Linked DNA regions of Homo sapiens. The protein of the gene in region 2 interacts with the protein of the main gene of each other region in a pairwise test. Each region holds a gene or a part of one and is shown on either strand. Other genes may lie near its edges. The genes, in order: HPCAL1 and CA3.

Evidence for each region.
Region 1: the proteins of CA3 (region 2) and HPCAL1 interact in binary tests that used the Homo sapiens proteins (3 or more experiments, as listed by UniProt).

Annotation. Positions count from the first base shown.
Region 1 is NC_000002.12:10,301,270-10,305,178, reverse strand, and holds the start of HPCAL1 (hippocalcin-like protein 1), read right to left. Parts: upstream 2,276-3,909; 5' UTR 2,002-2,275; intron 1,480-2,001; exon of another isoform or gene 1,237-1,479; intron 1-1,236. UniProt on the Homo sapiens protein: May be involved in the calcium-dependent regulation of rhodopsin phosphorylation.
Region 2 is NC_000008.11:85,436,988-85,440,896, reverse strand, and holds the start of CA3 (carbonic anhydrase 3), read right to left. Parts: upstream 2,039-3,909; 5' UTR 1,988-2,038; coding exon 1,954-1,987; intron 1,186-1,953; coding exon 988-1,185; intron 1-987. UniProt on the Homo sapiens protein: Reversible hydration of carbon dioxide.

The DNA.
Region 1 (3,909 bases), on a different chromosome or scaffold from region 2:
CCTTTTTTCTTGTAGGACATAAAATCATTTGATGAAACAGAAAACAGGGTGCATTCTAAGTGTGCCCCTGTCACTAAGTCAGGATGAAAAATGAGAAAATGAGTTCATCGCATCCCCCTGGCCTGCCATGGCTAGGATTGCAGGGCTTCAGTCTCGGCCGAGGGAAACCAAAGGAACCGGACCAGGTTTCTATCCCTGGCTCCTAAAAGCCCGCAAAGCAGCCCGCCTCTCTGGGAACACCATCACGTAGCCCCTGACAGTTGGGAAGCGCATCCATACCAAAAGGCCGCCCATGCTGTCCCCTCCGCAGCCCAACCCCATGCCGGCGCTCCATTTTGAGAGCCTCCTGCACTGGTGAGATCTTGGCTCCCTTGGTTAAAGGCGATTTTTTTCCCCCAGAGAAAGACACCAAGGCGATGAAGGGAAAGAATATCCTTCGCTCTGGCCGAGAGCCACCCGACCCCTAGAGCTGGCCTTGCTGCGTCCGAGCCAGCGCCGAGGCGCCAGAACTCTCCAGAGAGTGAGTCGTGGTAAGAGCTGGGTGCTCGTTCACTGCGGTTCAATTTTACGACTAGTAGGTTTCAAAAGTAAATGTTTTAAATTAAGGTGTGGGACTAGGAGGAGGTGTCCCATGTGGCACCCCCGGCATGAGGCTGGCTGCAAGGGAGCAGGGATGGCAGGGGCTGGGGCTGGGGGTTGTCTAATGCCGAGGCCAGCAGCTGGACTCGGCGTCCCTGGCAAACATCCTCCTCTGGTGGAATTGGGGTCAGCCAGGAGGAAAGGGGTGGCCTTTGGCGGCCGGGACACCCCGGGAGCCCGAGATCTGCATGTGCGGGAAGCGCCAATTTTACGCCGTGACTCTCGGACTCCACGAGCTGAGCTGCATCCTCCCGGACTAGGAACTTGTTGAACCAAAGGGTTCTCAACTCCGCAGTCGCTGCCTCCCGGCCAGGAGAGGGACCCCCACGCTTGCGCGGGAGCCTGGGGGCTGGGGCAGGGCCGGCGCCCAGCGCGGCGCTCTCGGGCACTCGCGGAGGCGGCGCCGCCCGGGAGGTGCTGCAGGAGGCAGCGCAGCTGGCAGCTAAACTTTCTCGAATCTCAGTGCTTCGCGGTTAAGTTAGGGCCAGGGAGAGGCACAAAACACGCCCGGGGAAAATGTAAGGCCCCACCCACGATAAAGGGGAAAAAAAAAGGATTTTAAACAGGAGACGCTAATCCAATTAACACAGTACCTACTGTGTGCGGGGCTTTGGACCAAGAGCTGTCTTCAGTGCGTTCTCATTTCACCTGTCACCACAGCCCCCAAGGGAGGAGCTGTCCTCATTTTAAAGAGAAGCAAACCGCGACCGGGGAAGGTGGCGCGTCTGGCCCAGGTCGCAGTGCGGGTCGCGGGGAGGCCAGGGCTCTCCTCGTCGCCCCATGGCCCTGGGAGGAACGAGCGGATCGCCTCCGCGTGGGCCCCCACCCTTGGCAGAAGCTCACAGGCGACCCACGTGGGCCGCACGGACCTGTTCCCTGAGGGCTGCCCAGCCTGCCCGCGAGGCCCGCCCTTGCCCGTCGGGTCCCAGCTGTCCTCGAGGCTCCTAAGCTACGCACTGCGCCGACCAGCAGGGACAGGGGGCTCTGGGCGTGGGGCTGGACCACCCACACCCACCCCGCCACCCCGCTCTGCGCACAGCTGCTCACACACGACACCCGCCAGGCACCGCTCCCCACCAGCAACTGCGCCCCGACACACAATTCCACAAACGCAGTCCAAAATGTGCACACCTAAGGCACACATGGATGCCCACGAGTACACGCCATTCGAAAGACACACCACCGTCCGCAGTCACCCACAACTCCACCGCGCAGAGAAACGCGGGCACTCCCGGACACACACACGCGCGCACAACACACACGCAAAGAGCCGGATCGCAGCGCTCGCCGGTGCACACGCCGGGTGCACACGCCCGGGGCACACTTCAGCAGCCAGCAGACCGCAGCCCGCCCCTTCCCTACCTGCTCCGGCGCAGGACGCGGTCCGCCGGCTTCCCGAGCCCAAGTTCGGCGCCGGCGGCGGCTGCAGCGGGCCCGGGCCGCTGCCCGGGACAAGCGCGCCGAGGCCGGGAGGAGTGACTAGCAGCGCGGGCCTCCGTGCGCCCGCAGCTGCTGCGCCGGCCCTGCGCTCATCGCCGCCCAGAAAGACAAAAGGAAGCCGGCAGCCAGGGAGGGAGCAAGGTGGAGGCGCCCGTCAGTCCGCCCGTCCGCTGCCCGCCGCCGCCGCGGCCCGCCTGCCAGCTCCGGGAAGGAAGGGACGCGAAGGCGGGACCTGGAGGCGGGACCCGGAGGCGGGGGCCGGGGCGGGGCGCGCGGCCAGAGGCGGGCGCTCAAGTTTCCTACGGCCCCGCCCCCTCCGGGCCCCGCCCCCTCCACGCCCCCTGCCGGACCCTCAGCGCCCGGCTCGGCCCTCGCAGCCCCTGCACCTCGCTGCTCCTCGGCCCTCGCGGCCCAAACCTGGCCCTGCCGGGTCCCAGCCCCCAGTGGCTTTCGGGACAGGGGCGGAGCCGGGCACCGGTTCTGTTCCCCTAACCCTTGGCCTCTGGCCTGCTGGTATAGAAGAGGCCGAGAGGCGGCGCCCGGGAGGGGCCAGCCCTGCGCCCGCGCCCCCCGCCCCCACGCCGCAGGAAGTGGCCCGGGCGGCCTAGGAAGGGGAAGAGCCGAGTTGCCCCAGCCCCGCACCCCCAGCCCCAGCCCCGCGTGCAGCTCGCACCCCTTCCCACGCCTGTTCGGGGGAGAGCCCCGGGCCTGGAGTGGGAAGCCTGGCTCCAGCTCTGGTTACCTGCAGTGACTCCCCAGGCCGTTTAGGCGAGTCCATTGGGCCGCCTCTGCCTCGGTTTCCCCACCTAACCACGGAAGGTGCTCCTCCCTTCCAGGCATCTGTGGTCTTCGAGCTCCACGCGGGAGAGGCGCCGGTCTGGCACCTCCTGCCCAGGGTCGGCGCCTCCTGGCTCTCGGGGAGGGGGGCATCCTCCATCCCCTGCACCTGCCTCGAGAGGAACCAGGGACAGAGCACCCCCACCCCCACCAGGAGCTCCGGAAAAACGGCTTCAGAAGAGCAAATATACACACACACCCACCTCCCGCCCCAAACATCCCCGAAGAAAGGTAACCACAGAAACAGCCAGAAATGTGGAGCTGGGCGATCGTATGAGGCTGAGACAAAACTGTCTTTCTAGCGTCTCTAGGGGAGAGCTTGAATCCCTCCTTCCACTCCTCCTCCACGGAAAACAGAGTGAACTCCTGCTACAGAGGCCGCCAGAGCAACATGCAAGACCAGCTTTGAGGGGAGCGGGCACAGGGCCTTGCAGGGAAGGTGGGCCGAGCCCAGACCCCTCATTCTTACTTGGCTCTGAAGGCGGAAAGGCAAAGCTAGACCTCGAGGAAGTTCCCCTCCCTGTGGGCCCTACAGTGAAGATTACATGAAGGCATGTGGGCGGTGGACCAGAGTGCACCGACTGATGAAGGCGGCCCGGTACCCGCGGGTGCCATGCCTCCTTCTTAGCCAAGGCCACTCTAGCTCCCCGTGAAGTATCCAGGTAGAAGGCTGGTGGGGTTACAGGTGAGAAGCCGTCGGTGGGGTCCAGGAGCCAGGCCTGGGGAAGCACACGTCACTTCCACCCACATCCATGGGCCAGAAGTAGTCGCACAGTCCCACCAGGATGCAAGGGGCTCTGGCAGCTGTGGTCTTCATGAGTGTTTCGGAAGTAAACAAAGCCGGTTTGATGAACACGTAGAAACATCCCTGCCACAGAAACTGAGCAGATTTCTCCCAAGCACACACAGGGCAAAGGGGCAAAGTCTGTCCACAGACTCACAGGAAGGGAGGTGCATGGCAGACACAGGCAGGAGGTGGGGTTGGGGTGGAAA
Region 2 (3,909 bases):
TCAAAATGGTACTTGATATATAAGGAGAAGGGGAAAAAAGGAAACAATAGCAATACGAAACCACTGTTTAAGAAAATTTAAATTTCTGTAACTTGGAACCTCCTGGTAGGTAGGAATTATGAATATCATTCTTCATTACAAAATCATTAAGAATGTTCATTTATGTATATCAATAAATATAACTTTATTAGAGATGGGGCTATAAGGAATTATTTTGCTGTATATCAAGCACCAAAATATTAAAGGAAGATTCTTTCTTACCTCATTTATCGTGAAATAAAGTATTTCTGACTAGTCTTCTTTTATTATACTGATTTGCTTACTAGTGTAGGTGAAATAAAGAGATTTGTTTTTTCTAAACATGTATTTTTCAGTCGCTGTCTCACACACAAACTACTACTCAAGAAGAAATTGTCAGATATTTCAAAAATACTCACCCAAATGATTAATCAGATGAACCCCACTGAAGGCTTGAAGGCAAGTCATCTTGACACCTTCAGTGGCCCTGTTCTCTCCCCTAGATTGGTCACCTCCCAGGCACCAAGGGAAGAAAGTGCCTATTTAGGGTTTCTATTGTATATCTGGCTTTGTAGAATGGAATCTATGCAATTGAGAGTGGAAGCCTGGCTCTCCAGACCATGGACAAGAAGCACAAGAACCCTCAGGTATAGGCCATCGGAGTCTGAAGAATACTCATTTGAGTTTATTGTCATCTCTGTCCTATCGTGTTCCATTTCAGGAATGCATTGCCAACTTTTAGCTTGGACATGGGGCCGTTTTCACAGAGACCAAGTTTGGAGGGTGTGACATTCCTCTTCAATACATAAATATAATTATTCATGACTAAAGCAAAGTCAAATGTCATCTGCATTTTAAAAGATAAAGTGCTCCCTCTCCCCATTAATTCTGGTACTGTGTCATAAACCACATTTTGTCAATATGGACCTTGAAAACATCCATGTGATTCTACCTCATTGTCATACTTACTTGACCTATCATAAGTATCATCAAATACAACTCGGCAGGTCTTCCCATTATTCAGGATGGTCTTGGCAGAGCCACCATCATAAGACACAGACCATGGCTGCAGAGAAGGGTCATGCCTGATGTCTTTAGTATGCAGCTCAACGGGCGACTGGTTTTCCCCCTTGGCATTTGGGAAAAGTTCATGCCAGTGGTCAGGACCTAGGAAATAAAGTCGAGGAGATGTATTTATTTGGTGGCACAACCCAAGGCCTCTTTCTAATTGACTAAACCAGCAAAATACAGAGAGGCTAGACAGTGATTTCAAAAAGGTCTTAGGTTTCAGACTGGGCAATAAGAGACTTAGCATTCATTTCAGGCCTGTTGGTAGTTTTGTGAATAGCACACATGGAGACTATTTAACTCAGTGTGTTCACTCTGCCTGCTCAAAGGCTTATTTTTCAGATAAACTTTATCACATTTTTTTTTAACCAATGACACCTTCCATCATAGAGTTGGAATAAAATAATATTGACCACCTACATTTGAGCATTGTGTTGTGGGTTTCAGAGCACACCCATGTTCCTTTGCCTTGGATTAGGGAGAAGCTTAGGCAGAGCAGAGATTCTCACACCGGCACCAAGCTCAGGTTAGGTGCTTGTCCAGTAAAACAGAATAAGGGCCAGTCACACCTGACCTCGGGCTGTCTGACTTCTCAGAGGCAATGGGATCTTAGGCAAGTGATCCAACTTCTCTGCACTTCAGTTTTCTCCAAGGGAAATAAAAACTCCATACTAGGGAGAACCAAATGAGATGAAGGAAAAAAAGAAGCAGCAGCATTTGGCAGTTGAAAAGCCTCAGTAAATGTTAGGTCTTATTCTACTCCTACATTTTCCACTGCAGTCTCTAAAGTTGCCCATTTCTGTGCAATGGCAGGGCTCTCCTGGACTGGCATCCCTTCCTGGCCGGGTCGCGGCTGCCTGCACTCACCGTTGTGACTGGCGTAGCCCCACTCCTTGGCCATGGTCGCCTTCCTCCGTGCTGGACGGCTCCTGCTTTCTCTTCCCCTGCGTGGTGCAGAGTCGCCGCGAGCCCGCGCTTTTATGTAGCTCCCCCGCACACTGCATGGCCTTATTAGGTCAGCGAGGGTGGGGCGGGGGGCTAAACTAGATTGGGGTGGTGTTTGGGAGGCCGGGTAGAGGAAGCCAATGAATTCCAAGAGCGGGACAGCTGTCGAGGTGACGGGGGCGGAGGTGGGCGAAGGGGCACCCACGCCCCTCCCTGCGCTCTCCCGGGAGTCGTGGCTCCTGGCCCCTCCATCTCCTCTTCTTCTCTCTCAAAACTGCAGGGTTTCTAACCGGCGCCGACGTGCAGAAATGCAGGCGGCCCTCACCTCGTCCTCTCTCCTTCCTCCATGCATTCTTGGGGATGGGGTGGGGGCAGGGACAGGGTGTCGTAGTTGTGCTTGGCCACGAACTAAAATCTACATCCCGGCGGCTCTTGCAGCCTCACTTAAAAGTTGCTTCAAGCGCAGGCTGGCTGTCTGGCTACGATCTCTGGACACTTGTGCGAGTTTATTTCGCTCTAGCGATCCGGTTACAGAGGCTGGAAAGAACTCGTTTGTTTGCCTGCCCCCTAAGTTTGACTCCCTTTGCAGGCAACATGTAAAATCCTAGGAGCAAAGGATGGGAAGAAAGGGTCCGGAGCAGGGTGAGAGGGTGAAGAGGCCCTCCAAGTCCGTTATCCTTAAAGAGATGGCCCTTTCTGGAATCGCACCAGGCGGCATTTCCCAACCTAGCGGATCCTTTTGGCTTGCAGGAAACCGAGGGCTGGATCTCAGAGAGCGCCAGATATCCAGGAGATGTCTGGATCCCAGGTTCACGCGGAGCTGGAGACTGGGACTGATTTAGCCACACTCCCTGAGCTGTACCTCTGTTCATGAAAAATCAAGAATATTCTGAAGTATTGGAAGGCCACTAACATAAAATGAGTCATATTTCTTAAAACCTGTGGTCTTGCTCTCCAAGATACAATGAGAGATTGCAAGAAAAGAAAGAGGGAAAGATTTACAGAATGGCTTTTAATTTTTTTCTCCCCCTACTAAGTTGTTTTCTTATACATTGAACCATGCAAAGGAGAATAAAAGTGGCATATCTAGTGTGTCTACATGACAAAAGTATATTTTTAAATGTCTGGTTATGGTTCATATCAAAGAGGTCAGTAGTAGATATTTACAATTTTAAGAGTATATTGTAAAATTTCTCCTGTTTTAATTCAGTAATAATTTTTTAAGACAATGAGGAAAGATAAACCTAATTTCAGTGCTATCTTGAACAATATTTCGATATACATTTCCTTAATTAACTTTTATTGATAATAGTATTTAGTATTTGGGGATTACAAAACTCGAAAAGGAAATCGCTCGTCATGGCACAGATAGCTCATCCCTAAGGCATGTGGAATGACTGACCACACTCATAACCTGGACGCCAGGGGAGTCATTCCCCAGGGTATTTTTGTGACAAGGGATTATTTGATCCACACAATAGCAGTGTGGAATCAGGAACTAAGGCAGTTCGGAAAATCCAAGCAAACATAGTAAACAAATGCCCTTAAACTCTCAGCTCCTATCTGTCACTGTTTGATCAGAAAGACTGCAGTGGTTAATGGAGATGTTTTGTAGTTCTTATAAAATGTATAATTATTTGTATGAGTAAACCAATCCACTCAATCATTACAATATTCTTTTTCTGGTATGAGTGGTTAGAAGATTGGCAAATAAATTTCATGTTATTTGATATAGTAATCATACAGAGAAGACAATAACATTTATACCAAGAACGATCTAGAAATTCATCATGTTGTTATTATTTATGCATAGAAGGATACCTTTTTTAAAAAAAGTGCTATTTATGATTAATTTTAAATGCGCACAATAGCACATAA